Regions from separate parts of the Homo sapiens genome. Here region 1 is linked to region 2. The links come from fine-mapping of genetic effects on gene expression. A gene starts in region 2. The other region holds a variant in brackets. All regions are shown on one strand. Distances are from middle to middle.

Region 1 (4,403 bases), 50 kb before region 2:
GAAAGCAAATCCAACTGTTAAAGGTAATATTCTTTGTATGAAGCCTAGAGTGGACTTCCATGTTGAGGATACTGACAGCAGGTTGCCTCACTCCTATCCCGTTTGCATTCAGCTGCTAAAGCAGCCATGAGGCAGCTGATACAGAGCACATCGTCTCTACCATCCTAACGGAACTTGTGTAATTTGTAAATCTTTATTGCCACCTAGGGGCACCAAACTGTTTAATGCTCTCAAAAGTTTAATATGTTGATTAACACTTTATATTTTATAGGACTTCATAAAGATTTTGATCAGTGGGACTGCTTGATTGAAGGAGATGATGAGAATCTTATTCCAGGGACCAACATTAACACAACCAATCAACACATCATGTTACAGAACTCTTCAGGAATAGAGAAATACAATTAGGATTAAAATAGGTTTTTTAAAAGTCTTGTTTCAAAACTGTCTAAAATTATGTGTGTGTGTGTGTGTGTGTGTGTGTGTGTGAGAGAGAGAGAGAGAGAGAGAGAGAGAGAGAGAGAGAATTTTAATGTATTTTCCCAAAGGACTCATATTTTAAAATGTAGGCTATACTGTAATCGTGATTGAAGCTTGGACTAAGAATTTTTTCCCTTTAGATGTAAAGAAAGAATACAGTATACAATATTCATATCAGCCTAAATTTTAATTTTAAAGATGATTCCTTTTCAGTGTCGAAGTTAAAAACTGTTTTTACATTACTTTGACAGACAAGTAGATTAAAACAGGCAAAATCCCAGTGAAAACCTGTTGCAATGATACAAGACTCCCTAAACATAGAGTAAAAAACAATTTCTTGCCTTTTATTATCTACTATGGGCAGTGGAGTTTAATTATAGCAACATGATATTCTAGGTAGAATTTGGCAGCTCTTCTCTTTGACTTTTGGTCACGGTAAGAAAAATTAGAACAAGCAAAAGCCATTGTTTCAGCACAGGATTGGTGGTACTACACAATTTCAAATGATGACTAAAAGGAGTAGAGAAGGGTTAAGAATATTAGAGATGAGGCAAAGGCAGTGGATTAAATTGGTAATTTTTTGACACTTTCTTTAATTCTTTAAGGCATTCTACTTGCTAAAGAAAGGTTCCACAGGTATTACAGCATATAGCAGGGATTCCAGTTAGAATACATTAGTTACTCACACAAAGGCTGTGAAGGATAATAAAACATTCAGAATTACATTTAGCTTCTTCATATTCCAGTTAATTTTATTTAATGTTTTCAATTCTATATGTAGTAGTAAAACAGAATAACACGATTAAATGGAGGTAAAAATATAGCTTAAGAATTTATACTTATAAATATGGGAATCATGGAAAATGATTTTATTTCCCAGGGGACATAAAAATTTATACCACTCATTTGGTACCCTAGTCCTATCTTAGTGGTGTCAGGTGCAAAGTCACTCATTCTGAGAAATTTTACTTCTGTAGCCATTCAGATTAAATTTTTTAAAATAGGGAGTTAAACTCAGCTTGAAATTGAAGGCTTCCTATAATCTGATCCTAATGCATCTTCTCTGAGCTTTGCTTCTGGCAATTCACATTATATTATCTATATGAGTAAGCCAAACTTGTCTATTCATTATTCCAGGAATAAGTAATATACTCATCTACCTCAATTACTTTTAATGCAAACCTCTCTCCCTTCTACTTACGGAAATTATAATGGGTTTTTAAGGTTCATAATTCTATTTCCATTAGGCTTCAGAGTCTGATAATGCTTCACAGAGATACACCTTTACCCCAGTCTCATTTAGCAAACCTTTTCCCTATTCATTTTAGAAATAAGCATTCCAACTGTATGGATGTCCCATTCAACACTTTTTTGTTTGTTTGTTTTTTACAGTCTTTTGTTGGTGGCGCATGCTGATGCTGAAAGGAGAAAATAACTATTGAAAATATCTAATAAGTTAAGGTTAAAAAGAAATAACCTAACATAGTGCACACTGAGTATTTTTCAGGGTAAAGAAAGACACATTTATCAAATGCCTACTCCTTTTCAGGGACTTTATATCAATTATTTCTCATCTTAAAAAAACACTGCAAGAAAGGTTTTATTATCACCACTTTACAGATGAAGATCAAAGTTCAAAATATTACATAATTTGCCCATGTCACATATCTGTTAAGCAGCATATAGCTCAGATCTGTTTCTAAAAGCTAAGATCTATGCTTTGCAAAATCATGTTTAAAAAGTCATGGGCTTCAAAGTTAGGTAGGTCTGGGTTTGATCAAGCCTCTGAGACTCATCAGCTATCTGACCTTAGGCAAGTTATTTAACCTCTTTATGAAGCTTCAATTTTCTCACCTATAAAATATGGATAATATTGATATGCACTTCAAAGTTGATGAATAAAGTGAAAAAATGCATTTAAAGTATAAGCTAAGTGACTAATACATAAGAGCTAACATTTAATATTACTATGCTTTCCCCAATCCTCCATTACAGAGGAGAGATGGAACCAAGTATATTTAAGAGTTCTATTTCCTTTTTAATAAAATGAGACCATCATATTAAGGATAAACTTTATTTAAGGATAAACTTTATTCAAATCTTGTATTAGAATACTTCCAAATTCAAACAGAATGTTAGTCAAATGTTTAGACAAACAGGCAAAGATTCAAAGTCAAGACAAAAATTCTGAAGGAGATCCTGCTAAAAAGCTATCCTAAGTAGAATCAAATAATGTACTTGTCATGAGCCCTTATTTTTCTATTTTAATTTAAACACTGTATTTGAAA[G/T]GTACCAAAATAGTTTTTGAAATGTAATGTGTTAGTAAACTGTTTAGCAAAATAAATCCTCCCAACTAATTAGAAACGTAAGACAATAAAGACGAAAGATCCCAGATCTGTATATATAACAGGATCACTATAAACACACCCCACCATCAACCTGAGACCTAATTTGTTTTCCACCTATATAGAAGTTTTTGAAAATGACAACTTCTTGTGGTTACATGTTTTCAATTTTCTCAAATACTCTGTTGGTCTGCGTAAGATGCCACTTGTTCAAGGGCAGCTTCTGACTGATTGGCCACAGCTATAGATCCACGGTTAAATCTCCATCACCTCCAAACCCCTTTTCTGAAACAAAAAGAGAAAAACTTCAAACTGAGAAAGAAACATACAAACAAAAAAATTTATTTCCATGGGTGTTACCATGACAAATGTAATGTTCTCTAAAAGGGAGAGGGGACAGATGAGTATTCTAATTACTATAGGGCATTATTTCTATAGAAACAATGTTTTATTTTCTTATTAATATTTTGGTTCTCACACTGTACCATCAAATCAAGTTTCTCTAAAAATTATGAAATTGGCATATTTTATATTTTGCTAGAGAATGGTGTGAACAAGGCTGATAATCAATTAGTTCTTTTTCCTTTTTGATTAGTATATATTTTTCACATGATATTAAAGCTACCATTAGCTGATTTTATTCTCAATGTGCCTCAATTCTAAGAACCACTGCATTATTTATGAACAAGAATGTGCAATACCAAGAACCAGCCAATAATTTGAATCTTATATAAACTAAAGATTCAGAAATTCCAAGAGATTATTTAACAAATATCATTTGAACATATGAGCTAATTAACAGAGAAAATTCTTTAAAATGTGAATTTATCACATTCATAATTTAACTTTCAAGATTAATTCAATTAATAAATTTCCTATATTTCAAGAAATCCTCATCTTGGGTTATTTATCTCCATAAGTATATTTAAATTTTTTTACCTAAAGTGGTTTTTCTTCCCTGCTACCTATGTCCAAAGAAATTGATAAACCATTTTTGTTTGAGGGATTCAGCATAACAATATTTTTAAGAAATTGTAATTCTGGGTGATAAAAGTATTTTGTTTTAAAAACACAAGTTACCTTTAATAGTGGTATCACCCACTGACATGAAGTAAAGATCTTTCCCTACTCTTTGGGATACAGCCTAACAAAAGGAACCTTTGAATTGCTATTGATTCTTTATCACGAGTACAAAATAATTCAAATCAGAAATGGAACCACAGATAAGCCAGAAAAGATGTAAACAACAAAATGTATTTCTATCAAAATTATGACAATCTGATTTTATAATGAGGAATCATGTCAAGTACTTTTTCTATTCTTCAAATACTCATTTCTCTAGAACATATCCCTGGAGCACTCTACACAGGGAGTAAAGTACCCTTTTCCAATGTTTAGCTCTCAAATCCCCAACAACTCTGGTAATTGGTGAAGGAGGGAGGGACATCATTGTTCAAGGGGCTGTTATTCAAACACAGTATCCATGTAGAGCCACAGATGCTTTATTAAGGACAATGAAAAGGGAAATATTTCTCCTATATTCCTTTTAACAACCAATAGCATCATGTGCATGCATTA
Region 2 (4,403 bases):
AAGTACCATATTGTGTGCTATCCTCTTGACTGCAGCCATGATTATTTGAGATCTAATGTAACATTAGAATACTGCACTATATATTCTTATGTACTATAACAAATGCTAGATGAAGCTGAACTCTATAATTTCGTGGGTGATGTTCACATGCAGATGAATGACTGACATAATGTTTGAGATACAGAAGATGTAATGGAGTTTATAATGTTGTCTTTTATATGCAAGGGTCATAAGCTCAATATCCTTTCAATTAAAGCATATATGGAATTATTTTTCCAGCACTAAATTATATGCATCGCCTACTCATGGCCTCCTTACAAGTACTAACTGTATTTTGGAAAAATTTTTTGGTTTTAAGTTTTAAATTAGATACAGACCTTTTACCTTAATACAGTTAAGCTAAACGGCCTACATAAGGAAGATAGAGCTCATAACCTTATACAGAAAACGTCCTGAATAATTAAAATAATAACATTCAGACAAGTTCATGAACATTACTTACATTATATAAGACTTTTCAATGACCACCACCTGACACAAAACCTTAGTATACCTTTTCCAAGAGAAAACAATGTGGGGAAGGGAAGTGAATATTAAATCTTACCACTGGTTTTTGGAAAAGTTAGTATCTTGCTGACAGTTTCCCTAGAACAGAAGTAGCTTGCATAGACTTCAAGCAATATTTTATTGACATATGAAACCTGAAAAATCTTAATAGATTTCTCCATATTACACAGATTATGTCTTTCAAAATAAGTTTTGTTTTCTCGCTGGTTTGTTAAATGATGCTTCAGGTTCCTGAAGTGGTTTGTACTTAAAACCATCCCACATTTTGATTCCCATCCATTCTCCACACACAATTCTCTCCATGAATTTTTAACGAGGAATAGTCCTGTATAAAAGCCATTGAGTCAGAGGGGGACACATCAATTAAAAATAAAACCTGGAAATATCATTCAGCAATCTGCTTTTAGATCTTTTTAAGCTGATGAATTTTATTTCAGTAAAAACAATGAAAAGTAAAAATTCTCCATCATTTTCGAAAGGAGAGACATTAAAAAATAGAGGGGCTAAAAGGCAAAAATGGAAGAGCACGAAACAACTGATCATGGCTGGCTATGCTAGAATTAAAAAATAAACTCTTAAAATAGGACCAACTAACATTTACAAATGATAACGCATCAGAACTGTTCTTTTTATTTTTTTGTAACAGGCAAGAAAATGTAAGGGTAATCTTAAAATACACAGTTAAGGCTTCACAGGAAACACATGAGTATACTACTCACAAAATCCTTGGAATAAACGCTACTTGCTCATTCAAGGGCATCATCATTCCACTCTAGATGGCCTCTTAAAGTTTTTTCTTACTCATGTAGGCAGATGTAACTGCTCTTCTATGCTTTTATGACACCTAATAATATCTTCATTATAACAAGTAGCACATTATAATTGTCTTTCTCTGTCTCCCCAGCAGCCTGTAAGAAGGTCAGAACTGGGTCTTTTCAAATATATATCCACAGTCCCTGGTATTGTAGGAATTATAAAAATGTCGCAACTAATGGGTGTCCTGCCTTGGGTTTAGCAATCATATATTATTGACTTCTCAGAATCCTGCAAGGTAAACAGTATAGATGAATTACACTCAAAGAGGTCAAGTAGTCGATGCTCTGTGAGTGGCAGGTTAATAACGGAAGTCCCACAAGGTAGGTCCACAACTTGGACCCACAAGATAATGACAGTGTGGCTGTGTAAGACTATAAACCACAGAGATGATCTCAGTAAGGATGGAAAACAGATTACGTTTTTAAAAAGGTCATCCTCATGAAAAGGAAAATGATTCCTACAGAGGAATGACAGCTCGCGAAGCTTCTTAAAGTACAACATTCAAGCACCACAGCACATGCCTAAGGGAAGCATTAGAAGAGATTAGAAGGAAAAGGCCGTGGAGACCTCAATCCCTCCTCCTCCCACCGCGGGCCTGGCCTCCACCGCCACCTCTGCCAGGCGGGCATGGAAGGGGCGACCTCTCCGATGCGCACTGCCGGGCGCGAAGCCGCCCGCGCACCCTCCCCCAGCGCGGCGCGTGCCACTGGCCCGGGAGGCCCAGGCGTGGGCAGCCGGGTACCTAGCTCGGCCACGGTAGCCGCGCAGCCGGACAGTAGGAATTTGCTCGCTCGGGGCCATCTCTGGGTCAGCGGCAAAAGCCTCTCCTCCTCCTCCGGGACGGACATTCAGCAGTAGCGCAAGACGATAACGCACTCCTTCTCGCCGCTGCGCTGCACCGCGCCGCGGCGGCCGCTTCCCTGCCAGGGCGGCCCCTTTTCAACCGGCGAGTGGCCGGGTGAGGACCATTTCCCTCGTTCGGCTCGGCCGGGTGGACCCGCAACCTTCCTAGCAGTCCCAGCTGGAGTGGTCCAGCTGCCCCTTACACCCCAGAATAGAAAAACACAGCGGAGCCCAGGAGGTTACTGGGCAATGTAGTCCGCCGGGCTCCGCTACGTCTCTGATTGGCCGGCCGCGGGTCCCTCTGCGGCTCCGCCCCCGGCCTCCATGGCAACGCGGCTGGTTCTCGCCCGTCAGTCCTAGCCCGGCCCTGCCCCTCCTTGCATTTTTTCCGCGCTGGCTGAGATTCAAAGAGAAGTGGAGGTGGGAGGGAGCGACAATGGAAAAATCACCTGAAAACTGGGACAGAGGAAGGAAGCTACAGTTACGAAGGAGAGCTGCAAAAGTTGCAGCAGAAAGGTTGGGAGTCCCGACAGGTTCCGTAGCCCACAGAAAAGAAGCAAGGGACGGCAGGACTGTTTCACACTTTTCTGCTTCTGGAAGGTGCTGGACAAAAACATGGAACTAATTTCCCCAACAGTGATTATAATCCTGGGTTGCCTTGCTCTGTTCTTACTCCTTCAGCGGAAGAATTTGCGTAGACCCCCGTGCATCAAGGGCTGGATTCCTTGGATTGGAGTTGGATTTGAGTTTGGGAAAGCCCCTCTAGAATTTATAGAGAAAGCAAGAATCAAGGTATGTGGTCGTGGCAGACGGGGTCTCCAGAGGAGACAATGCTTTCTTTTTTAAACTTTCTTTCATTGACTCTTAAGTGCAGGGCTAGAACACGGGGAACATACCTGCTTGCCTCAACTAAAGGATCTAGTCATTTCTGAATTCCTCTACTAACAATTAACAACAATATCCTGTGCAAAATTTTGCGAAAGAAATGAAATACAATTGCAGCGTGCATCGACATTTTTGGAAGTAGAGATTAACTTTTCGTATTTTTACTTCATCGAAGTTAAGTTCCAAATGTGTATGTGTTAAGTAAATGTTTTCAGTAATTGGGAAAGATAAAGTGTAATCCAATTTAAGTTTGTGAAAATGAGTAATTCGTATCCAAATTGGAGTTAACACCAAAGTATTGTACAAATTGCTTGCACAGTTGGTCCGTACACAATAAACAGGCTCTGTATTTTTAGCTGACGTTGTTATTTGATGATGATGTACTCCATTTTCACTACGGCCTGAAGAGACTAGTAATCCTCCTTGTAGTAGATGTTTTTGTCTTGAAAGTATCTTTTAAATGTCTGAGCACTTTAAGGAACAGACCTTTATTAATGTCTTTTAAGTTTTATTCAATTTCCAGTCACAAATATTTTATGGTATTTGATTGTCTAATAAATTTGTATGATATTATAATTATTCTTATGAATTATAATACTTTCTGTGGTGACCCATTTTCCATCTGGTTAGCCCAATTTGTAGAATGAATTTATACGTAGTAGCATTATTTTACCACTGATCATTTGCCTTCAAAATCTCTGAGATTCCAATTTAGTAAAAAACATATAGAAAATTAAAGAGAACTAAGATGAAAATAAAAATAACCCAGAATATCACACCAGCTGTACTGTAAAAATTTAGTGTATTTATATTATTTTGGTCATTTTCCTATGTATTTACAACTATTTAATGAACAACAATGGAATAATAGTATAATACTCTTTTATGTGCTTTTGATTTTAACATATAATGTGAATGACTTTCCTGTACCATGAAATACTTTGAATCTTCCTTTTATGGCTATATTTTGTCATAGGAGGATACAATAGTTTACTTAAATCTCAATAGTTGGGTTTATAGGTTGCTGCCAAACTTTTTTCTTTCAGCCAGTGCTTCAGTGAACATTCTTGCGTGTTTGTGTGCATGTATTGATTGTGTGGTTGTACATTTTGCAATTATCTGATTGTTTACTCAGAATAAATTCCTAGGAGTAGAATTGCTGAGTCAAAGGACATGCACACTTAAATTGTTTATATGAATGTGTTACTTTTGGAAAAAGAAGTATGAATATGCAATTTTTATTTTCCATTGACTGTATGCAATTGCCTAACTTCTCAAATCCTGGGCCATAC

Evidence for each region. PIP is the estimated chance that this variant, and not a neighbour inherited with it, causes the effect. A credible set is the group of variants that fine-mapping cannot tell apart.
Region 1: its variant is the best candidate, but not a certain one, in a credible set for the expression of CYP39A1 in cerebellar hemisphere (GTEx, PIP 0.51).

Annotation. Positions count from the first base shown.
Region 1 is chr6:46,700,565-46,704,967 of GRCh38, reverse strand. It overlaps TDRD6 (tudor domain containing 6), which reads right to left. Exons shown (of 4, transcript NM_001010870.3): 4 at 649-3,110. The coding sequence ends at 3,081. PLA2G7 (phospholipase A2 group VII) reads left to right here. Exons shown (of 12, transcript NM_005084.4): 12 at 272-767. The coding sequence ends at 408. Among named protein-coding and RNA genes, the nearest start is that of TDRD6-AS1, 15 kb to the right of the region's middle. The variant G/T (reference allele first, on the strand shown) is at 2,769.
Region 2 is chr6:46,651,021-46,655,423 of GRCh38, reverse strand. It overlaps CYP39A1 (cytochrome P450 family 39 subfamily A member 1), which reads left to right and starts at 2,606. Exons shown (of 12, transcript NM_016593.5): 1 at 2,606-3,018. The coding sequence starts at 2,842. SLC25A27 (solute carrier family 25 member 27) reads right to left here and starts at 2,449. Exons shown (of 9, transcript NM_004277.5): 1 at 2,126-2,449. The coding sequence starts at 2,231. RefSeq lists silencers at 2,012-2,111, 2,542-2,631 and enhancers at 2,292-2,421, 2,652-2,701.